3 separate regions of the Homo sapiens genome follow, and all the other regions are linked to region 1. Evidence: fine-mapped expression QTL. A gene starts in region 1. Each other region holds a variant in brackets. All regions are shown on one strand. Distances are from middle to middle. Region 1 holds the start of PDLIM1 (PDZ and LIM domain 1). Region 2 overlaps PDLIM1 (PDZ and LIM domain 1). Region 3 overlaps PDLIM1 (PDZ and LIM domain 1).

Region 1 (8,177 bases):
GAATGCTAGCTTTCCTCTCCTCTGTGGAGCAAGAGTTAAGGCATGGCCTAAGAATGTGCCAGTCCTATCCTGATCCCAGTACACAGCAATTCCTTGGTGCTTTTCCCAGTCCTGGTCAGCCTAGGAGAATATGACCCAGACGCTTAGATGACACTCTCCTCTCAGTCATCTACCTGGCTGCAATACCCTAAAGCCACTGTTCTTCCCTCTTGCCTCCTCAAACAAACCAGCAAGGTTGGCATCAGGAGTTTAGGGAGGGGAGACTATCTGGTCAGAGGGTGATAATGTAGTATGGGCTCAGGCATTCACTTACATGTCATTCTCTTTGGTTTGTCCTCTTCCCCCTCTCTCCTTAAGTCAGCTGTGAGCAGCTGAAGTCGCTAATATTTCCCAGGTATCAATTTCACAGACCAAGGGCATGCAGCACAATGGCCATTAAAACATAATGACCCTTTTTGGACATTTCCTGCTTTTCATAATCTGACAGACAAACCCTTCTCTTTCAATCTTTACGACATGATGTAAAATCTATCTGAATCCGGAAATACCACTCTTAAAAATCAGAAATGACCCTCTGGCCACAGTAACCATTATTAAGCATCCCTTGGGATACTTGAGAAAAAGCATAAGCATTTGCCACAGAACCGCTCAGCTCTTAGCAAAGGGTTCCCCAGGACTCCAGAGACAAATGAGCAACTCCTCCAACTAAGGGCATCCCTTGATCTTGGCCTCACCCTTTCCTGTCTTTTATCAGTTGCTGGGAGAGAAAAACAGTCAACATAAACTGAGTTGCAATGTTGGCCTGGGTATTTCTCTGAAGGCTTCCCTTGAAAGTAACTAGAGGGAAGGAGAAATTAACATGGAAAATTTTTTTAATTAAAAAAATACCTCAAGGAAATGGGCAAGTGTTGATTTGAAGCAGGAACTGACAGAAAAAAATATCAGAGAACAGTGGCAAATGTGTGGCTGGATCATCAGGGAACACAAGGCAAGAGCACTAAACGAGAATGTGGGTAAAAGAAGCTAGCCTATGTCCACTTAAAGTTGGAAACCTGGGTTGAAATTTTAAGTTGATAACGATACTAGATGAAAACATTAAGGAGCTAAAGAAGCTGTTCACACACACACACACGTGTTCTGTATGAGTCTGTTCAGAAACAGGCAAAATTAAGCTATGGTATTTGGGATACCTAATTTAGGTGGTAAAACTATGAAGAAAAGCAAGGAAGGGATTACCATAGGTCAGGATAGCGTTACATTTAGGGAACTTTTGGGTGCTGCAATATTCTATTTCTTGACTTGGGTAGTGATTATACAGATGCTTGCTTTATAATCATTTGCTGTGCATTTGTATTTTATGATTTTTTATTCCACAATAAAAAATAAGTTAAAAAATAAAAAAATTGCAAGTACATAAGATTAGCATTATATTAAGAAGCTTTAGCAGTTTAGCAAAAGACTGGAGCCAATACCACAATAATTCATGCAAGAGAAAGCAAACATGGTTATTTAAATAAAAGGCACTCCTCTCCCAGCCTAATTTTATGGTTTGCTTTGGTGTGGAGACTCAAAGTCTATCATATACAAAACTATACCAGCAAATTGCCCAGGATGATAAATAATGTAGCATACCTACCAATCAGAAAGTGTGTACAGCTCTTTGTCAGTGCTCACATTTCCTCACTATCACTATTTACGGAGCACTCTCACATACCTTAACTCACAGCCAAGGGCTGGTGCTATCCCCACTGCAGAGGTTTTTTTTTTTAAGTAGCCTCAGACAGTGGAAGATTCACCCCAGGTACAGCTCAAGCAAGAAGACACTGGACCAGCACCAGATCTCAGATGGCCACACCAGGGTCCCTTTATGACAATGACTTTCCCATTCCCATGAGGTGAACAGGCTCACAATTTTTCCATGTATTAATAAGGAGCTGAAGAGAAACAAATAAATTACTGTCAGCATGAAAATGTTACCTCTTCTGAGTCACTTCCACTTTTCAATTAAAGCACCTGCCAAGGGCATTATAAAGATTAGTTTCCATCACTAGACCATGAACACCTTGAGAATGGAGCTGTGCCCTCTCATTTCTGAGGCGTTTGCACAGTTTCTGGAATATGATACGTGCTCATTAAACACGTGCACACGCCATAAATAAATAATATAAATAATAAATGAGTGAATATATGAAGGTAAAAACCAATGAATTCACAGTGTGGTGTTTTCCACCCCATTCCATCATTCACTCATGCATTAAGACTTTTAAAAGCAGCTAAAGTGAAAGGCAGTAACTGCCCTTTTAACAGATTGCCAATACATCCTCCACTACTTAAAAAAGGGTTTCATGTCATATATAAATCTCAGAAGTGGAGAGGGCTGACAGGTTAATTATAGACACAAAGAACAGGGACAAATGGACTATGAGGTAAGCGAGTTGAAATGTGCAGACACAATGTCCTCCCTGGACAAGCATTTATTAATAAGCCTGCAAGGATTTACCCAGCCCGGCCAGGTACAGGTCTGCTACCAGGCTCGGGGACGATTCTGGGGAAGGCACAGTTCCTGCGCTTGAGGAATTAGGCTGGTGGCTGGAAAGGCAGTGTGTACCTTTGAGAATAATCAGAGGTCTCTGTGGGACGAGGCAAACAGGTGGAAGATAAGGCCCAAAAACTGGCCCGCCTACTCTTTTAGGGGGGTGAGATAGAGAAGACCTCCTCACTGGGCCAGGCCAACCGGGAAAGAAGCATGGGTAGGACTGTGGCTGGCAGACAAGTCAAGAGGAGGCCACCAATTCTTCTCCTGCACCTCCCACCAAACTCCTTCAGCTGCTGGACGCAGGAGCTTGAGTCAAAAGGATCCATAAGGATATTTCCCTTTCTTCTCCACCCTTCCCCCAACCCCAAGTGAAAAAGAAGGATGTTTAGAAAGTCTGGGAGACAAGCTGAAGGGCAGCTTCAGCAGGCAGATGAGCCCAAGAATGGAATGTGCCGCCTACAGGCAAGGAGTGGCCATGGGTGGGGAGAAAGGGGACTTCTTTTTCTCCCTTTCCTCATTCGAGGTACTTACTGAGTCTCTTCTTGGTGCCCAAGCACTGAACGTGACATCTCTTAGTGGGACATCAACCTGTGTTTGGCCAGATTAAATGGCCAAAGCCCAGACCTCTGAACACTGAGTCTGGGTCTCCCTGGGGGTTTCACTTTATTAGGGGGGCAATGGTTCTGGTGGCCCCTGATTCAACGTGAGTCCTTCTAAAGATCCGAAGCCCCTCTTAGATTTCAAGCACCTCAACCCCACCCCAGGTGGACACCCCATCGCAGTATCTACTCATGCCCTGAGAAAAAAGGGCTGGTGCGGGGAGGGGAAAGAGATAATCTGGGAATGCTAGGAAGAATGACGGCGGGGCCACGTTCTGCAGAGGGGAGAATGACCAAGAGGGTTTACTTGAGTTTGTTTGTTGTGTTTATTTCCCGAATCCAGCACATTCTCCAAAAGCCATTCGAGGGGCGAGCCTCGGCCGTGGGTCAAGTCCAAAGAGCGTGTTTCGGTTGTTTTTTTAGGTTAATCCCACTTGCCCCCCACCCCAGTAAACTTCCCACCCACCCCACCTCACTTTCCAGGTCTTTCCTGTTGCGTTCGGCTGCACTGCGATCTGGGAAGAAGGGAGAAGTGCCATCTCCCAGCGCGCGGGATCTGCGGGGACCCTCGTCCCCTCGCTGGTTGACAAAGAACTAACACCCGCCCCGCCGCGCTTCCGGGGCCAAAGAACGAAAACTGCCTTCTTTTTTTCTGGCGGACACGGAGCGCGCCCGCGGCGGGCCGACCAGCCCGGGAGCGCAGCCTCCGCGAAGGGGCGGCGGGGAGCGGCGGGGCCCGGGCGCGCGGAGAGCGCTCAACTAACAGCGCACCTGGACGCGCCCGGCTGCGGTTCCGACTCCGTCCCCGACCGCGCCCGCGGGGCCCCAGTCTCCGCATATCACCTCCCATAGCGCCCCGCTTCCACGCACGTCCCAGCTGCTCTTACCCGGGAAATGGCGAGAGGCTGCTCGAAGTCCTTGCCGCCCACGAGGCGGAAGCCCCACGGCCCCGGGCCCTGGAGGTCTATCTGCTGGGTGGTCATGGCGCGGCTGTGGCGGGCGACGACCCGCGGGGACAGACGGGCAGGACGCGCGGAACAGCTTGCAGGGCACCCCCGGCGGCTGTCGGAGAAAGAGCGGCGCGGCGCGGGCCCGGGGAGCCTGGGGCTGGCGGGGGCAGGGCAACCGCGAGGGCCAGGGCGGGGGCGGCTCCGCCCAGGCCGCGTAGCCGCCCGCCGCCCCGCCCGTCCTCCCGCCCGCAGCCGCTCCCCGCCCTGCGCGCCGGCCTGGGGGCCCTGGCCCGGAGTCCCGCCGAGAGAGCGCGAGTCAGATGCGGGGCCGGGGCTCTCAGCAGCTCTGCCCGGGACCCCACACCGCCTCCCTCCCTCCTGTACGCACGGCCGCACCGCGGCTCTCGGGCCCGGGGCGGGTGCTAGGTGAGAGGGAAGCAGGTCCTGACAGCGAGACAAACTCGCGCCTCGTGCTTTGTAAAACGAGAAATTTGAAGTGCTGTGCCAAGTCAGCCCTCTGAGGTCGGCTCCGACTTCCCATTTGCTTTTTGTAATCGGTAATGATGTTTAAAAGGTGCTTTCGAACGATCTCATTTGATGCTGAGGCAACCGGGACGTTTAGTCCCATTTTACAGATGAAGTAACTGAGTCTGCTCAGTAGGTGAGAAGACTTGCCCGACGCTACACCACTCGTCAGCATCTGGACCACTGCCCGGGCCCAGTGCTGCAGAACCCCATCCTGGAACTTTTATAATGCTAATGAGACCATCACTCAGGTTATAACTGAACTTCAAGGCCTTCCTAGAAATCTTTCCTCCAGGCTGGAGTTCATGGTAGGTTCTGACCTCAACAGTTCAAACCTCAAGTTTGGGGCGGGCCAAGGGCCAAGTCAATGCAAAAGAAGAGCTGAGTCCGGGACCTGGATTCCCAGCCTCCCACCAGCTTCCTAGCCAGGCTCCCCCTGACGCCCTCCCGGTGGAGTGCATTCTCCACGCCGGACCAGACCATTTCTCATGCTGTCCATGGCGTCCCCACCTCACCACCAGTGAAAACCCAGATCCTTACAATGCCTACAAGGCCACCCCTAGAATGGCCCCAACTCCCTCTCTGACCCCAACTCCTCCTGCCCTTTCCTCACCTGCCCCCCAGTCTGCCAGGCTGTGCTCCTTGCTCCTAACTCAGGGCCTTGCCTCAGGGCCCTGTCTGCAATGCTGTTCTCCCAGACATCCCCACCACTCTCTGTCATTTTCTAGGGGCCGGACACGTGGCTCACGCCTGGAATCCCGGCACTTTGGGAGGCTGAGTCAGGAGGATCAGTTGAGCCCAGGAATTCTAGACCAGCCCCAGCAACACGGCAAGACCCTGTCTCTACAAAAAAATTTAAAAAAATAAAAATTAACCAGGTTTGGTGGGGCACACCTGTCCCAGCTTCTAGGGAGACTGAGGTGGGAGGATGGCTTGAGCCGGAGAGGTCAAGGCTGCAGTGAGCTGTGGTCGTGCAACTGTACTCCAGCCTGGGTGACAGAGTGAGACCCTATCTCAAAAACTAAAAAATAAAAAAAATGCAAATGTCATTTTCTGAGGTCATCTCTGAGCATCATTTAAGATATCCTCTCTAGAATGCTCTATTACCTTCCCCTGCCTTATTTTTTTCTTTTGTATGTATCACCATCTGGCATTCTCTATATTTTGTATATTTATTTGTTCCACCCCCACTCTTAAGCATTAATTCCATAAGGACAGGGGTTTTTATCTGTTTAGATCACTGCTGTGCCCCAGTGCCTAGAATAGTGCCTGGCACATAGTACTTAATGTATATAACACATTGGCCATCCTCAGGACCACTTACCCTCTCTGGGCCCAGTTTCTTCGCAGTTTTCTTGGCACCCATTCATCCTGGTACCCAGGCCCCAGCACAGTGCTTGGCATAGAGCCCATGCTCAATGAGTTTGTTCCCTGTGCAGCTCTGTCTCCCTGTGATCCTGGCCTACCTACTGAAGAGCCCTGTGCACAGATTTACACATAAAAAGATTATCTTGCTTGTCCAATTGTGTGACAGCACAAATGCCTATGTTTGGGAATAGTTTGTTTGCTTTTAGAAATCCAAGTGGAGGGCCGGGCACGGTGGCTCACACCTGTAATCCCAACACTTTGGGAGGCCAAGGTGGGCGGATCACCTGAGGTCTGGAGTTCGAGACCAGCCTGACCAACATAGAGAAACCCATCTCTACTGAAAATACCAAAAATTAGCCGGGCGTGGTGGCGCATGCCTGTAATCCCAGCTGCTCGGGAGTCTGAGGCAGGAGAATCACTTGAACCCGGGAGGTGGAGGTTGTGGTGAGCCGAGATCACGCCATTGCACCCCAGCCTGGGCAACAAGCGCGAAACTCGGTCTAAAAAAAAAAAAAAAAAAGGAAATGAAAGTGGAGTTGTATGATTATACATCCCTCTCAACCTCTTGCAACCTGATATTCTTTCCTGAACCTGAGAAAAAGAATGGTGTTATAGCCAGTAACCAGCCACCTGCTTTATGAACACCAAAAATACATTCTCTTTGTTTAAGATTCTGTTGATTAGAAAGCATGACTGTGTTTCAAGTCCCTGCAGAATTTGCAGGAATCACCGAATTCTGAATCTGTCCCTAGATGTGTAACCATCTTGAATATTTTCTGTCCTAGAAGGAGAAAAGGGTTGAAAAGTCACAGCTTCTGTGCTTCTGAAGGCAGAGACTGCCTTTCATTCATTCCAAGTGCCCTGCTAGCATGGACCTCAATCACAGTAGGTGTCAATAAGTGTTTATTCCGTACAATAGTCTATACAGACATAGTGCACTAATGTGTTAGCAAAATGTCTGTGAGACTTGAGTCCTCAGTTGCTTTGTTTTTAAATGTCCTCGGTTGTAGTCTGGCTCTACATAACAAGAGCTATAAAACAGTCAGCCCTTTGACCCAGTCATCCACTTTCTGGGCAACAATTCCAAGGACATAATTTTTAAAAAGAAAAATGCTGTATGTATACAGATATTTATAGCTGCATTATTTATAATGACAAAAAACTGGAATCAACCAGTAACAGAAAAGTGGCTAAATATGGTATGGCCGTAAGAGGGAAGAGTATGCAGCATGAAAATAACCAGGAAGACTGTGAAGAGACAGGGAAATGTGTTTTCAAAATATGTAAAAAGAGTGCAACAAAATTATTCGTATACCGTGTTAAAAAATAAAAGCTTATCTACCTATTGAAATTAAGAGAAAGTAGGAAAAGTAGTGGCAGACAGAATGAGAATTTTTTTTAATAATTGCCTCTAATGATGATGTAAAATTTTCATAATAAACATCAAAATGGTCCCAGCTCCTTGGATGGAGACTAAATGCTAGTCTTTCTCAGGATAGAGACCTGATCATTTATCCTTTTTTTTTTTTTTTTTTTTGAGACAGAGTCTCACTCTGTTTCCCAGGCTGGAGTGTAGTGGCACGATCTCCGCTCACCGCAACCTCTGCCTCCCAGGTTCAAGTGATTCTCCTGCCTCAGCCTTCCAAGTAGCTGGGATTACAGGCACCTGCCACCACGCCTGGCTAATTTTTGTCTTTTTAGTAGAGATGGGGTTTCACCATGTTGGCCAGGCTGGTCTCGAACTCCTGACCTCAAGTGATACACCCACCTCGGCCTCCCAAAGTGCTGGAATTACAGCGTGAGCCACCGCGCCCGGCCTCCATTTATCTTTTTTATCTCCTCTTCTCTCCCCCAACCAGCTAGCTCTGAACTGGGCACACAGCATATATACTCAGAAAATACCCAGAAAAAGATTGACGACCCTCACCCCAAAACATAAACAATCTTCTCTTACCTTAAACACCATTACTTAAACACAATTTATTCATGCTTTCCAGTTCCCTCAGACCCTCGACTCCTGCCCAGTGCTAGTTGAATGGCCTTAAGCAACCTCTCCAAACTTCAGTTTGCCTTATTTTTATTATTATAACACATTCCATGAAAGTTTGTTAACCTAAACAGCCTAAATTCAACATCTGGGTGTTCTAGGGCAAGCGGGGAGAATGAGAAGAGGGAAGCAAGGAGGGTGGAAAGTGCAAG
Region 2 (8,191 bases), 21 kb before region 1:
GTTCAAGACCAGCCTGACCAACATGGAGAAACCTCATCTCTACTAAAAATACAAAAATTAGCCAGACATGGTGGCGCATGCCTGTAATCCCAGCTACTCGGGAGGCTGAGGCAGGAGAATCTCTTGAACCCAGGAGGCAGAGGTTGCGGTGAGCCGAGATTGTACCATTGCACCCCAGCCTGGGCAACGAGAGTGGAACTCTGTCAAAAAAAAAAAAAAAAAAAAAAAAAAAGATTTCTCTTTTGGCTGGGTGCAGTGGCTCACGCCTGTAATCCCAACACTTTGGGAGTCCAAATCAGGAGGATTGCTTGAGCCTAGGAGTTCGAAACCAGCCTGGGCAACATAGTAAGACCCCATCCGTAAAAAAAAGTTAGACAGTCAAGTAGCCTGTAGTCCCAGCTACTTGAGAGGGCTGAGGCAGGAGGATCATGTAAGCCCATGAGATGGAGGATGCAGTGTGCCATATCGTGCCACTGCACATCAGCCTGGGTGACAGAGCTAGACTCTCATCCCTAAAAAAACAAAACAGGCCAGGCACGGTGGCTCATTCCTGTAATCGCAGCACTTTGGAAAGCCAACGCAAGAGGATCACCTGAGTTCAGGAATTCAAGACCAGCCTGGCCAACATGGTGAAACCTCGTTTCTACTAAAATATAAAAATTAGCTAGGCGTGGTGGCACCTGCCTGTAATCCCAGCTACTCAGAGGCTGAGGCAAGAAAATCACTTGAACTCAGGAGGCAGAGGTTGCAGTGAGCCAAGACTGCACCATTGCACTCCAGCCTGGGTGACAGAGCAAGACTCCATCTCACAAATAAAAAATAAAAATAAATAACAAAAAATAAAAAACAACACAAAACTTCAGCAGTTATCAAAGAGTAGTTAAGTAAATTTTATGGCACAGCTACCCAAATAAATAATATATAGTAATTAAAGGCTATGGTCATGAAGACAGAGATTTACAGATGGGTGGCCTGGTACCCTTGCCTACATGTGCCGCAGCCAGGATGGTCATTCTTTCTTCTTCTCTCCATCACCATGGCAATTCCTAGGAGCAGCAGAGGATGCAGAGCCCCAAGGAAGGGTCTTTATTTTTCCGCCTTGGCTCAATTTTTCCCTGCAATTTCCTGTTTGGCAAGGAATACCCCTCTAAGCCCATTTTTCATCTTTAAAATGAAGAAGATAAAGCCTTCTTTACAAGGATTTGTGTGAGTTACTAGAGTGTCAAGTACAGTGCCTGGCTCGTGGCACATATTCAACCAGGGTCTGTTCCCTTCTCCCTCCACCGAAACACATTTCCAATTAGAATGGAAGTCAATGGAAAATTCAGGTTGAAAATTCGGATGATTTCACTTTCTAAAGAATCTTTCAAGAATGCATCTGGTTTGTACATAAAAGGAATATCTCTACCCTCATCTGAATACTGACTGGTCTTTCCAGAAAGCAGGCAGATTCAGGGCTTGCCTTTTAGAAGGGATGATGTAATTGTTTGGGCTTTGTATTTATCAGTCTCCAAGGAAACTCAATAATGAGGAAGTACAAACTAGGTGTGTAACTATGCTGACCTCAGATAAGCTGGGGTGTTGGTTGGCATTACATGAACCAACAGATCTTTTTATTATAGATGAACTCTGCTCTTACTCATTTATCCTCTACTTTAGAATGGCTGGAAGTAAAAGACTGGAAAAATGATGGGTGAGAAGTTTTTCTTACAGTAATAAAGCATTACTAGAATCACAAGAAAAATACAAGGGTTTAAAGTATTTGAGAATTTTTGTAATCTGAAGAGAACTACCTTCAAAAGATTAATACAGGTAACTACAGATTTAAAATGAAAATTCAAATATACTACAAATGAAAACTATAACTGAAATTTACATAATTACCTTATTTACATGAAAATGAGGATTTCAGATAGACCAAGTTAAAACGAAATCATTCCTTGTGTGTTATAAAATATGTAAAAATTAAAATTTAACAATTAAAATTTAACATTTATGGTAAATTTAATGAAGTAGCTGAGAACTCCCAAGGAAACTGAAACTAACTGTGGCATGTTTTAAATTAGTTTGCACAACTGCCAGTGTATAGACCAAGTGCCATTTTACGAACTTTCCTGAGAGGAGTTGTATAGAAGAATATGTTCACATCAGTTTTGAAATGATGCAAAATGATCCTTAAAATGACTCTTGGGATTTTTAATAATTATTTTTACTATCTTAATGGCAAAAATTTTATGTGACTTCGTTTTTGAAATTTTAATGGATTCTATTTGAGAAAATATGACTTATATCCAACCACCCAATTAACACACACTAATATACCAAGTGAGTTCAACTTCATACAAGTTTCTGTTTTATGTATAAAAGATAGCTAGCTATATATTGTATTTTAATTACATCTTAATTCACCATAAAAACTAAATAGTATCCCAAATTTAGAAAAATAAGTTAAATTTCAAATCTTCAACTTGGGTCAAATGCATAACCATCACAAACCAGTGTAAAATTTTCAAAAGGCATTATCAACATACCTAGTTTATCATTACTAATTCATTAATGTATCCAACAGACACATACTTTGAGACAAGTAGCATGTTGGGTGTGAGGAATTTTACAAAAGATGTTCTAAACATCTCTAAGTTTGTCCCTTATTTCAAAAACAATACCCATGCCTTGTAGATTATTTAGAAGAGGCACATAAGGCAGAAAGAAATAAAATCACCTACAATCCAATAATCCAACTACTGAGAGATTTATTCACAAATATGGGATCTTAGGGCAGTCTACTGTCCTGAGAAATTCTATCTGGGTGACAAATTGTACACTATGTACTGCTTTTTTTTATATTAATTGCTGCTTTATTTTAGTAATTTTAAAGTCTCACTAGAAGTTTCACTGTAACAAAAATAGAGATTTCCACTCCATGGCTCATGGAAACCAGACAGGGGCATACAGTGGGGAGAAGCAGGGCTTCCTATTACATATTCCCCGATTTCTTCTAGGCTCTAGGCCTCCAGACCTAAACTTATTTTCATCCCTGTCATGATTCATTTGTTGCTGAAATCCATAACGAGCTGAATAGCTCCTTGACTTCACTGTGATCCTGCCAACCCTTCCCACGCAGGAAGGCTTCCACCGGCTTCCCTTATCGCCTTCCGACCCCCTGCTTCCAGCCCAGGACACAGCGTCACTGCCCTGGGGTTTTCCAGCCCTATCCTCCTGCAGTTCCCTTACGGGAAGAACTGAACAAGAGCCAGATACCAGCAGAGACAGTGAAGGGTCTTATCCCCAGGCCTCCAGGGCAGGAAAAACAGGAATGTGCTGAGCAGTGTCAGAAACGGCAAAGTGCTGGGTGGTGAGAGCAGCGGCAACGATGAGCAAGAACTTACCTGGGGTTCAGAGGCTAAATTCATCTTGTATGGATGACGCTTCCCTTCCTCCGTCACCAGAGGAGACCAGACTTTATGTTCAGATCTGCAACAGATTAACAAAGCTGCTGTTTCACTCATGTAAAATAAATAATATATACCAAAGACAAACTGGAAAAATGCCCCCTCTTTCCTGGACTAGGCACTGAACTAGCACCCTCCCATCAGCTCTACCTTCCATTTGCCACCAGGTTGATCTTTTAAACACCCCAATCTGATAACATCCATGGCTGATGGCTCCCCAGCATAGCCCCAAGGGGCTTCCCAAGCACTTCATCCTCCCTCACCACACTCTGGGTAGCTGACACCAGCAGTGTGGTCTCCTCCATGTTCCTAAGCATGACTCACACTGCCCTATCTCTGCTCAGGATAGAATGGGCTTCTCCTCTATCTCAACCCAGTGTGTTTGGTCCAGACCAAATAACCAACTTATTTGTGAAGCCTGTTTGACCCAAATGAAAATAATGCCTCTTGGCCGGGCGTGGTGGCTCACGCCTGTAATCCCAGCACTTTGGGAGGCTGAGGTGGGGAAATCACTTGAGGTCTGGAGTTTGACATCAGCCTGGCCAACATGGTGAAACCCCATCTCCACTAAAAATACAAAAATTAGCCGGGTGTGGTGGCATACGCCTATAATCCCAGCTACTCGGGAGGCTGAGGCAGGAGACTTGCTTAAACCCAGGAGGCAGAGGTTGCAGTGAGCTGAGATAGCACCACTGCACTTCAGCCTGGGTGACAGAGTGAGACTCCATCCCAAAAAAAAAAAAAAAAGAGAAGAACGCCCCTCTTTTGCTCTTATAAACTATTTTCTTTGTACCAACCACAGAGCAATGATTTTACTTTAGTCTCAGTTTTCATTAGTGTCGTTGTTTCCTCTCTTGCAGGTAGAAAATATTTATACTTATCTTTATTTATTTTATTTATTTATTTTTTGAGACAGAGTCTCGCTCTGTCGCCCAGGCTGGAGTGCAATGAATGGCGTGATCTTGGCTCACTGCAACCTCCGCTTCCCAGGCTCAAGCGATTCTCCCAGCCCAGTCTCCCGAGTAGCTGAGATTACAGGCACCTGCCATCATCCCTAGCTAATTTTTTTGTGTTTTTGTAGAAACAGGGTTTCATCATGTTGGCCAGGCTGGTCTTGAACTCCTAACCTCAGGTGATCTACCCACCTCGGCCTCCCAAAGTGCTGGGATTACAGACTAGAGCCACCATACCTGGCCATACTTAACTTTATATTTGTCACAATGTCTATGCCAGATATACAAGATGTCCCTTTTCAACATGCCGGTAAACAAATAAAAAATCAATTAATCAATGAATGAATGAATGTCCTGAACTCGGGCTTGAAGGAGAGGATTTGGACAAAGATAGAAATGGAGATGAGAATGAAGGGCAGATGTGCTTTTGAGGGGGTAGTAATAACACAGTGTACCTCTCATGGGGTAGGTCTCTGAAGTGTACAAAATATTTTTATATACTCCCCCACACTC[G/A]ATCCACCTGCCAGTCCTGTGCCACAAAGCAAAAAAAAAAAAGCAAAAAACATACTTCACAGATGAGAATCTAACCAAAGGCTCCATGACAAAGAGCTGTGGCAGCTAAGGTTAGTGAGATAACAGGTGATCAGAATGAAACATCTGAATTTGATGCAGTAGGAAACAGGGAGCCAACTGAGGGTTGAACCAAATCACTTCCGAAATCCTGCCTTTGCGGGACCCCTTCCAAGGCTAAATGAAAGAAGAATGGAAATTCTACCCTAATTACAGCTCCCAAGGTGCTACCCTCATTCATTCTTTTATCCCCAGCGCTCCTTGCTTGTCATGTACCTAAAGTTACACTCAGTACTCTGCTGCTAATGTGTTCAAGTTTTTCTCTGTTATTGCAATCTCCTGGCATGGTACCCACTGCTCAGCACAATGCAGTAGCAGCAGCATCCTAAGGACATTTTTTTTTTTGAGATGGAGTTTCGCTCTGTCGCCCAGGCTGGAGTGCAGTGACGCCATCTCAGCTCACTGCAAACTCTGCCTCCTGGGTTCAAGTGATTCTCCTGCCTCGGCCTCCCGAGTAGCTGGAACTACAGGTGCACGCTACCACACCTGGCTAATTTTTTAATTTTTAGTGGAGATAGGGTTTCACCATGTTGGCCAGGCTGGTCTCAAACTCCAGACCTCAAGTGATTTGTCTGCCTCGGCCTCCCAAAGTGCTGGGATTACAAAGAGAGCCACCGCACCTGGCCAGGACATTTTACTTACTCAAAATTTTGGTTGAGTTGGATCAAGTGAAAATGCAAGTATCTTACTGAAAGAAGCCCACATCATAAGCACCGTGAAAATCAGAGGGGGGCTGGGCACGGTGGCTCACACCTGTAATCCTAGCACTTTGGGAGGCCAAGGCAGGTGGATCACCTGAGGTCAGGAGTTCGAGGCCAGCCTGGCCAACATGGTGAAACCCCATCTCTACTAAAAATACAAAAATTTGCTGGGTGTGGTGGTGCACATCTGTAATCCCAGCTACTCAGGAGGCTAAGGCAGGAGAGTCACTTGAACCCGGGAGGCAGAGGTTGCAGTGAGCTGAGATTGCACCACTGCACTCCAGCCTGGGCAACAGAGTGAGACTCCGTCTCAAAAAAAAAAAAAAAAAAAATAGAGGGGAAATAAGCAATCTGAAGTTCAAATTCCACAGACCTTTTGGCATGCCTATAGTATATACATGGCACTGAGCTAGGAGGTCTGGGGGATTCTGAGATAGGGAAGGCAGTCCCTGCCCACAAACAGCTTCTAGTCAATCAGAAATGAACAAAACGTTTCCATAGGCTTCACCTGGCTACAGTGAGAGTCAAGTTGTCTGTGCAGCCTTTGATTCTGTTCTGAGCTTCCAAGTGTGTCATATTGCTAGTATTTTCCCCATCAATGGCTGTGATTACATCTCCAATACATAAATTAGCTAGAGCCGCCTTGCTTCCAGGAGTGACCTAGAAAAAAAGGGGAAAGCAGGCTAGTTACTATTTGTCTCCAAACCACTAAGTTACCACCAAGTTAAGTATTCACTGATATGGAGCAAAGCCCTGAAAAAGAAAAGAGGGCTGAAATCATAGCTTAAATAATAACAATCATTTATATTATCATTGACAAAGAGGGCTTTTCTAATATGATCTCATTGTATCCCTATAGCAACCTTATGAGAAAGGAGGACAAATAGCAGTCCCCATTTCCAAGACCAGGATCTGAGGCTTAGAAAGACCTATGACTTACCCAGGATCACCCAACTAGTATATTATTATATTACTGGTCCTCCAACTAGTGTATTACTGAGCCAGGAAACAAACCCCGAACAGATCTGATGTCCTTCCCACTGAACCACGTTTGCTTCCTTAAAATTAGTTAACAATTACATTTAAAAAAACACACACACACACATTTAGAGAACATTATATACTATAATACCCTATTTCTTTAAAAATCTTAATAATGTTATATATACAAAAGAAAGTGGAAACACTGCACACTAAATTGTTCACAGTTATACAGTTTTGCAATGTTTTTTACAATAATATTGAATTACTTTTTAATTTAAAAAATTGTTGACCAGGCATGGTGGCTCATGCCTGTAATCCCAGCACTTTGGGAGGCCAAGGCAGGCGGATCACCTGAGGCCACGAGTTTGAGACCAGCCTGGCCAGCATGGTGAAACCCTGTCTCTAACAAAAATACAAAAAAATTAGCCGGGTGTGATCTCAGCTATTCAGGAGGCTGAGGCAGGAGGATCACTTGAACCCAGAAGGTGGAGGTTGCAGTGAGCCAAGATCATGCCTCTGTACTCCAGCCTGGGCAACAGAGTGAGATTTCGTCTCAAAAAATAATAATAATAATAAAATAAAAATTTAAAAAAAAATTGTTAAAAGCAATCAAGGATATCCTAAAGTATGGTAGTATAGGTTTATACTGGTTTAATCTCCCAAAATGACTAGGGTCATTCCCTATAGACGGCTGGTTTTCTGCAGACTGATGCTTCTAAAACCAGTGGTTCCAAATTGACAGATCATTGATGCTTGGGGGAAGCCAATCAATTACTGCAATAGGTCCTTAAATTCACCTGCCTACAGAGCAATACATGCGGACTCAATACATATCACATCTCCTACACTGATGTACAACCATTTTTCAAGTGAATACAGATGCTATTAGAATGAACAAGATCCAAACTCATTTTGAAATAGTACTCACCTCAGAGTACTATCTCTAACCAAGGTATCTGGTTAGATTTTCTAAACTAAGGTATACTAAAAATATTACTGTCATCATCCCAGGGTAAGTTCACAACTTTTTTTTTCCACATTACAAGACCTTCCTGGATGGGAATTCCAAGTCCGCAGGATCAAGGTGGCAGTAACACCCCCAGGCTCCCAGTGCCCACAGGGCTCTGGCCACCCTTTGGAGAAGGCCCTTGACTCTCGGGATCCAGTTGAGGAAGATCTTATGAACACCTGGGTGTCTCCTTATGGCTGAACCACAGGTAACAGGTTCTTCAAGGCACCAAACCAGGACACACAAGTTGGGTCCTAAACCTCAGTATCTGATGCAGTTTTCAGCAGCTACAGTTTCCGATTAGCCCTCAGCGCAGCTAGTGTGGTGCCGCTATTATGGTGCATTCCCCATCAGCACCCTGACCCCAAAAAATGAGGACAAGTTGATCCTTGAGGTCCCTTCTGGCCCGCACATGCTATGACTTTATCAGGCAAAACTCTCCTGGAATGTGGCAGGATGTGG
Region 3 (8,191 bases), 39 kb before region 1:
GCTGGGTGACCCAGAACAAGATAAGACAGGCAGAGCCTGCCTCTTTCCCTGAGGGCTCCACTTTCTAAGCAGTGGACGGTGACAGGGAGGTAGTCTCTCATCAGCTATACCTGTAAATCTATCCTCCATCTGACCCCTTCTCACCTCCCCACCTCCCCCAGGTCCAAGCCATGCCATGCTTAGGCCAAAGTGATGGCCTCTATTCAAAATATCAGAGTGATATTTTTTGTTTTTTAGAGACAGGGACTCACTCTGTCACCCAGGCTGGAGTACAGTGGTGCAATCACAGGTAACTGTAACCTCGAACTACTGGCCTCAATAGATAAATCCTCCTGCCTCGGCCTCCTGAGTGGCTAGGACTACAGGTGTGCCACCATCCCCCGCTGATTTTGTCATTATTTTGTAGAGACAGAGTCTTGCTGTGTTGCCCAGGCTGGTCTCAAAGTCCCAGCCTCAAGTGATCCTCCAGCCTCGGACTCCCAAAGCGCTAGGATTATAGGCATGGGCCAGAGTGCCTGGCCTAGAATGATATTTTAAACATGAATCAGACTGTGTCATGCTGTGGCTCAATGTATTCTCATTTGACTTAGCACAAAATATTTAGTTTTAATACTAAAATATATGTTTAATCAAATTCAACTTTTTTGGAGTAAATGTTATCACAGAGGAGAAAGTCCCTCACATATGTGACCCAAACTTCTCCCTCCACACACATCCCCTGCCAGCCCTGGCCCACTCTGCTCTACTGAGACCAGGCTTCCCGCTGTGCCTGGGAAACACTAGCTTCACAGCCTATGCACTTACTGCACCCTCAGCCTGCAATGCCCTTCCCAGGTGTTGTCATGGCTCCCATGCTTCATCCAGGTCTCTGCTCAAGTGCACTCCTCAGAGAGGCCTTCCTGACCCCGACTCCAAACAGTCCGCCACATCCCCACTATCACTCTTAACTCCCTACCTGCTCTCTCACCATGGATTCCAGTGTATTCCCTTATTTCTTTGTTGTCTATCTCCCCCTGGAAAGTAAGCCCCAGGAGGGCAGGAGCATGGCCTGTCTTGCTCCCCATCACATTCCCAGGCCCGGCTCAGTGCCTGGCACAGGTCACAGTTCAGCAGGCAGCAGGCATCAGGCAAGTGAACGAACACTGCAGAATGGGTCCAGGGCCTCCTTCCTCCTTGCTGTGCTCCCCCTGTTCCTGCAGGCTCACGAGGTCCTCCAGGGCAGCCAGCCTCTGAGGGTTGTGCCAGGGACATGGGCAGCCCCACCTCCTGGCCCCAGATCACCACCTTCCTCTCAGCTGAGCTGCTAAGGAGAAAGGCCAGTGTGCCCAGTGGAACCAAAGAGCAAATATCAGATGGTGGGGCAATTTATTGATGCAGATGGATAGATTTGTATATAAACAAGTTGTGCTTCCTGAGTAATAAAGCTATAAAGTCTCCAGCCCACCAGGCTGCCTCCCAGCTTTACAGATGCAGGCAGTGGCCAGGAGTGGTTTTATTCAGCAACTCTAAACAGACTCTCTTTAGGGCTGGAGCCACTTTCACAGGTGCAAATGAATTATATCAGTTACGCTTACTCATTTCCAGGGTATATGTTTTCCCTGGGTAATTCTCCGCAAGTTCCCTTTTCCTCTCCCTCTCTTCCTCTCCTTTCTTCCTTTCTCTTTTCTGAGACAACCTCTGGGGCACGTTCAGTACTCAGGTCCCCAGCTAAAGGCAGAGTCAATCATAGCAATCAAGGTCCAGGTGTTTCCCTTCCACTCCAACCATGTTCTCACAATAAAGGAAAAGGCACCCAAAGAGTGGCATATGCTTCATGGCTACCAAAGAAGGTCAGAGTTTAAGTAGCAAGATTCATGGGTTGGTCACTCCGGCCGGCTGCATTTGGGGAAGGGAAAGCAGCTATCCCTGCCTGTCCTGCCCACTCCTGCTTGGCCTCTTCCCCCACCTGCAGGGAACTGTGGGTGCCTCTCAGGGCAGGCAATGGGGCCACCTGGGGGAGTTGTTTTAACCAAGGGTCTTTCTTTGTCTCACTTTCCAGCCCTTTCTTTGAGTTATATGCCTGACTCTTTGAGTCCTGAGTTTGGAACTTGCCCCATAATAAGCATATTACATTATTTTTGGATAAATCTTTTTTCTATTACACTTAGGACTATTTTAAAATTGAGATCAGACTATGGAATGTTCTTGGGAAAGATTTTTCTTCTTCTTTGGTGTATGTTATGTCTGGAAGCCACCAATGGAACACACCAAAAAAATGACAGAACCCAGACCACAAGGCCATCACATATTCTTCCAGCAAATCACCTTGTGAGGGATTTCTATAATTTAAAAAAAAAAAAAAACTTACCATTTTTCTCAAATAATGATAGTATCTTTAAACCACTGGACAATTTATAAAGGACTCTCAATATCTATTACCTTACTTAAGGTATTGATACACCTGACTCAAAAATAACATCCTAAGATCCAACGTCTAAGTCTTAGACACTAGATTACAAGGTATTGACATGATACCACAATATCTTAAAAAATGATGACAAAAATATGAAGGAGAAATGGAGCAAAAAATTTCTCGTTTTTATATTAAAAACAGCAATGAAAGAATATTACAGTGATATGGCTTCAGAAAATATAATACACACCACTCAGTCTCCAGGAGAAAAAGTTTTGACGGCGTAACAGTGAAAATGAACACTTTCTTCTGAACCCACTCTATACAGTTTTAATAACGAGTTTAAGCAAATTCAACTACTTTGGAGTAACAATACGTTACACAAAGTTTCCTAGTTCTTGTTTCTCCCTGGGAGCTGATGTGTATCTGTTTCCTAAATGTTTAATATTTTCTCCCACTATTTTAGGACGTGACCTGAGGGCCCCAGGGTTATTCTAGCCAAGCCACTCCCATCCCTGCCAAATAAGATGGCTGACACAGCCAGGCGTAGGAGGATCCTAGTGGTCTTTAGAACATAAGCAGAAACTCCCCTTGAGCCCACCTCCCAGAGGAGGATTTTGGAGGCTGAGCCTGCAGACCTTATGTGTTTCTCACACCTGCTCCAGCCAAAAGGGCAGCTGGGGTGAGGGTCAGAAGGACGAGGAGGATGGAAAGCAGTACGCCCATGGCTCTGGAGCATGGGTCAGCACAGCAACCCTGGGATGAAAGTCTACTCCATCAGAACCATGAAGTGCCCAGAGTGAGGATATAAGGGG[C/CT]TTTTTTTTTTTTTTAACTTGGGCCATCATCTGTGGCAGCAACTTAATTATCTGTATATAAATCTCAGCTAGGCCAGGTGCGGTGGCTCACACCTTTAGGAGGCCGAAGCAGGTGAATTGCCTGAGCTCAGGAGTTCGAGACCAGCCTAGGCAACACGGTGAAACTCCTATCTCTACTAAAATCCAAAAAAAATTAGCCAGGTGCTGCAGCGTGTGCCTGTAATCCCAGCTACTTGGAAGGCTGAGGCAGTAGAATCGCTTGAACCTAGGAGGCAGAAGTTGCTAAAACAAGACAGCCATAAGAAAAAAATCCTCATTGCTGATACAACCTTAGTAGGGTCATTTTCTCACACAGTAAGAACATTTTGATACTTTAATAAAACTACCTGTATGTGAGATAAAAATTGGAATAGAAACGGGGATTACGTGAATTATTGAAAGCATCCAGACAGGAGAAGATGGTCTCCTCATAAAAATATTTTTCCTGTCTGAGAAGATGAGGTAGACATATTTTTCCCTGTTTCACCCAGTAAAACCAAAAACCCTGGACATTACATATAAAACAACATGAGAAGACTCTGACAGGGCAACGGAAGCCACACTGGCTAGGGACCCCACGTCCTGAGGACCACGATGGTGAGCTCCCAGGGTGTTCTTGTTTCCTTGGACATCCCAGACATGGAGCGGAGGGCAGCAACCTGGAAAGGGCAATGGGCACAGACAGAAGAAGTCTCAAGAGGAGCCTGCTGTATCTGACCAAATAACCAGAAAGGGGCAGCCCAGCAAAACACAACACATTGAAACAACACTATTCTCCAGCCAAATGCCAGAAAAGGCCAAGTGGGGGGTCCAGACTTCTAGTCTCACCAGGCTATGATGTGGTTCCCCAACTATCTCACTGGGGTAGATTCAGAGAAAGCCCAATAGAGAGTCCATATTTCATCCTTACCCAGCTGTAATGAAGAAAACCTAGGAGAGAATCAGGACTCTCACCACTGCTCAGCAGTGTCTAGGCCACCACTCACCCATAAGGTGTCAGTGGAAGCCATATGGGGAGCCAGAACTCCCACCCCATCCAGCAGTAATGAGTGGCCCCAATGACCTCAGGTGTGACATAGGCAGAGTGGGGAAAGTGGACTTTCTACCCCCACCTGTCAGTAATGAGGCAGCATCCCCAATCCCATATCTGAGAGGAAGCCAGTGAATACAGAAGGTTTTAATGCGATCCAGAATCTAATAACATAGTAACAAGAATGTTCAAGATTCAGTTGAAAAATCACATCTCTCAGAAGAACCAGGAAGATCTCAAACTGTAAATAAGACAATAAAGAGATGCCAACACCAAGATGACAGAGATGTTGGGATTATCTAACAAAGATGGTAACACAGTCATCATAAAAATGTTTCAATGAACAATTATGAGCACATTTAAAACAAATAAAGTCTCAACAAACAGAAGATATAAAGAATGAAATGGAAATTCTAGAACTGACAAAATAACTGAAATAAAACCACAGTGGATACACTCAGCAGCAGCATGAAGGAGACAAAGGAAAGAATCAGTGAACTGGAAGGTGAATATTAGAAATTATACAATTTCAAGATCATAGAAAAATAGAATGGGGAGAAAAAAAAGAAATGAAGAGCCTCACAAACCTATGGGAATATATAAAAGATCAAAAATTCATGTCAATGGAGTCTTGGAAGAAGAGAAAAAAGGTGGAACTAGAAAAGTACTAGAAGAAATCATGTCTGAAGGTGTCCTAAATTTGGCAAAAGACATAAAGAAGTGAAGTGAACAGGAAACAGGATAAACCTAAAAAAATCCACACCAAAACATATCATAGTAAATTTCTGAAAACTACAACAAAGAAAGAATTTCCAAAGCAGTAGGAGAAAAATGACGCCTTATCTAGAGGGGAAAACCAATTCAAAAGACAGCAGATTTCTTATCAGAATCCATAAAGAAAAGAAGGAAGTAGCACAATGCTTTCAGCTGCTGAAAGAAAAAAAACTGCCAGCCTAGCATTCTGTATCCAGTGGAAATATCCTTCAAGAATGAAGGAGAAATCAAGACATTCTCAGATACAGGGAAACTGAGAGCATTTATCTCTAGCAAAGCTACCCTAACAATGTTTAAAGGAAGTTCTCTAAATAGACGAAAAAAAATAAAAGAAGGAACCAGCCAGGCATGGTGGCTCACCTGAGGTGAGGAGTTCAAGACCAGCCTGGCCAACATGGCAAAAACCTGTCTCTACTAAAAATACAAAAATTAGCTGGGCGTGGTGGCGGATGCCCGTTAATTCCAGCTACTCAAGAAGCTGAGGCATGACAATCACCTGAACCCGGGAGGTGGAGGTGGCAGTAAGCGGAGATCGCACCACAGTAGTCCAACCTGGGTGACAAGAGCGAGACTCTGTCTTAAAAAAAAAAAAAAGAAGGAATCTTGGAATATCGAGAATGAAAAAAGAACCCATAAGCAAAAATATGGGTTTAAAAAATACTTGCCCTCTCAATATATTCTAACTCTTGTTGACAAGTAAAGCAAAAATTATAACACTGTCTGATGTGGTTCTAAGTGTATAAAAGGATCTATTTTAACTATATTGTAAGCAGGGGAGGGCAAAGGTTCACAAAGAGAAGCAAAGTTTCTATACTTCTTTGAACTCCTGAAATGATGACGCCAGTAAACTGTGATAAGTTATATATACACAATGTAATACCCAGATAACTACTGAAAAGGTTATACAAAGACATAGAATAAAAAACACTACAAATAAAAATGTTATTCTAAAAAAAATGATGTCAAATAACCCACAGGAAAGCAGGAAAAAGAAAACAGAAATGGAAAACAGAAAACAAAATAAAATACCAGACTTAAGCCCTAACATATCAATCATCGCATTAATGTTCATCATCTAAATAAACCAACTGAAAGACAGAAATGAACAGGGTAGATACAAAACAGTACATTTTAAAACATGACCCAAATACATGCTATCAACATAAAACTCATTTCCAATATTAATGTATAAGCAGGCTAAAAGTATAATGGTAGAGAACAATATATCATGCCAATATTAATCAAAAGAAAACAGGAGTGGCTATATTATTAATAATATCTGATAAGTATACCTCTGAACAAGTAAATTTACCAGAGATGGAAATGGACATTATATAACCACAAAAGGGTTAACTCACCAACAGCTATAGCAATGTTAAATGTGTGTGCATCAAACAACAGAGCTTCAAAATATGTAAAGCAAAAACTGATAGAACTGAAAGGAAAAGAGACACATTCACAATTTTAGTTGAAGACTTCTATACCCCTCTCTTAACAACTGATAGATCAACTAGACAGATAATCAGAGAGGATACAGAAAAATTCAACAATACTATCATGCCAGGCACGGTGGCTCACGACTATAATCCCAGTACTTTGGGAGGTCAATGCAGGAGGATTGCTTGAGCTCAGAAGTTCGAGACCAGCCTGGGAAACATGGTGAAACCCTGTCTCTACAAAAATTACAAAAAAAATTAACCAGACATAGTGACACATACTTGTAGTCTCAGCTACTCAGGAAGCTGAGGTAAGAAGATCACTTGAGCCCAGGAGGCAGAGGTTGCAGTGAGCCACTGCACTCCAACCTGGGCAAGAGAGAGAGACTGCCTCTAAGTAAGTAAGTAAGTAAGTAAATAAATAAATAAATCAGAAATGAAAGAGACATTACAACTAATACCACAGAAATAAGGATAATAACAGACTACTATGAACAATTATACATTAACAAATTAGAAAACCTAGAAGAAATAGATAAATTCCCAAAAACACAACCTACCAAGACTGAGTCATACAAAAATTAAAAATCTCTAAACAGACCTATAACTAGTAAGGAGGTTCAATCAGTAATCAAAAACATCCCAACAAAGAAAAGCCCAGAACCAGATGGCTTCACTGGTGAATTCTATCAAACAATTTTAAAAGAATTAAAACTAATCCTTCTCAAACTCTTCCAAAAAACTGAAGAGAGAATGCTTCCAAACTCATTCTATGAGGCCACTATTACCCTGATACCAAAACCAAAGATACTAAAAAAAAAAAAAAAAAAGCTACAGACTGATATTACTAATGAATATTGATGCAAAAATACTCAACAAACTACTAGCAAACCAAATTCAACAGCATATTAAAAGGATTAAACACCATGACCAAGTGGAATTTAATCCTGTAATGCAAGGATGTTTTAACATATAACAATCAATCAGTGTAACACATCACATTAACAGAATGAAGGACAAAAACTACAGTCATCTGAATGCAGAAAAAGCATTTGACAAAATTTAACAAACTTTCATGATAAAAATACTCAACAAAACAGGAATGAAAGGAAATTACCTCCACATAATAAAGTCCATGTATGAAAAACCCACAGCTAACCTCTCACTCAAAATGAAAAACCAAAAGCTGTTCCTCTAAGATCAGCAGCAAGGCAAGAATGCCAACTTTTACCACCTCTTTTCAACATAGCATTGGAGGTCCTAATCAGAGACCTTAGGCAAGTCAAAGAAATAAAAGGCATCCAAATTGGGAAGGAAGAAGTAAAATTGTATCTGTTCAAAGATGCGATGATCGAATACACAGAAAACCCTAAAGATCCCCCCCCACTACACACACACACACACACACACACACACACACACACAATTGGAACTAATAAATGAATTCAGCATAGTTGCAAAATACAAAATCAACAAACAAAAAAGTTGTTTCTATACACTACCAATGAATAATCCAAAAAGAAAACTAAGAAAACAATCTTGTGTAATCATCAAAAAGAACAAAATACCTAATAAACTTAACCAAGGAGGTGAAAGACTTGTACACTGAATAGAGTACATTTTAAAATTATAAAACATTTTAAAATGTTTAAAAATATAAAACATTGTTGAAAGAAACCAAAGAATGCACAAATAAACAAAAAGA

Evidence for each region. PIP is the estimated chance that this variant, and not a neighbour inherited with it, causes the effect.
Region 2: its variant is fine-mapped to the expression of PDLIM1 in whole blood (TOPMed, PIP above 0.99).
Region 3: its variant is fine-mapped to the expression of PDLIM1 in whole blood (INTERVAL, PIP 0.95).

What each region holds. Positions count from the first base shown.
Region 1 is chr10:95,286,798-95,294,974 of GRCh38, forward strand. PDLIM1 (PDZ and LIM domain 1) reads right to left here and starts at 4,206. Exons shown (of 7, transcript NM_020992.4): 1 at 4,023-4,206. The coding sequence starts at 4,118. RefSeq lists enhancers at 2,723-3,042, 6,767-6,856, 8,165-8,177 and silencers at 3,764-3,873, 3,894-3,993, 4,044-4,433, 4,484-4,563, 6,207-6,276.
Region 2 is chr10:95,265,389-95,273,579 of GRCh38, forward strand. PDLIM1 (PDZ and LIM domain 1) reads right to left here. Exons shown (of 7, transcript NM_020992.4): 2 at 6,245-6,396; 3 at 3,390-3,474. Among named protein-coding and RNA genes, the nearest start is that of PDLIM1, 22 kb to the right of the region's middle. The variant G/A (reference allele first, on the strand shown) is at 4,919.
Region 3 is chr10:95,248,027-95,256,217 of GRCh38, forward strand. All of the region lies in intron 4 of PDLIM1 (PDZ and LIM domain 1), which reads right to left. Among named protein-coding and RNA genes, the nearest start is that of PDLIM1, 39 kb to the right of the region's middle. RefSeq lists an enhancer at 6,664-6,843. The variant C/CT (reference allele first, on the strand shown) is at 3,208.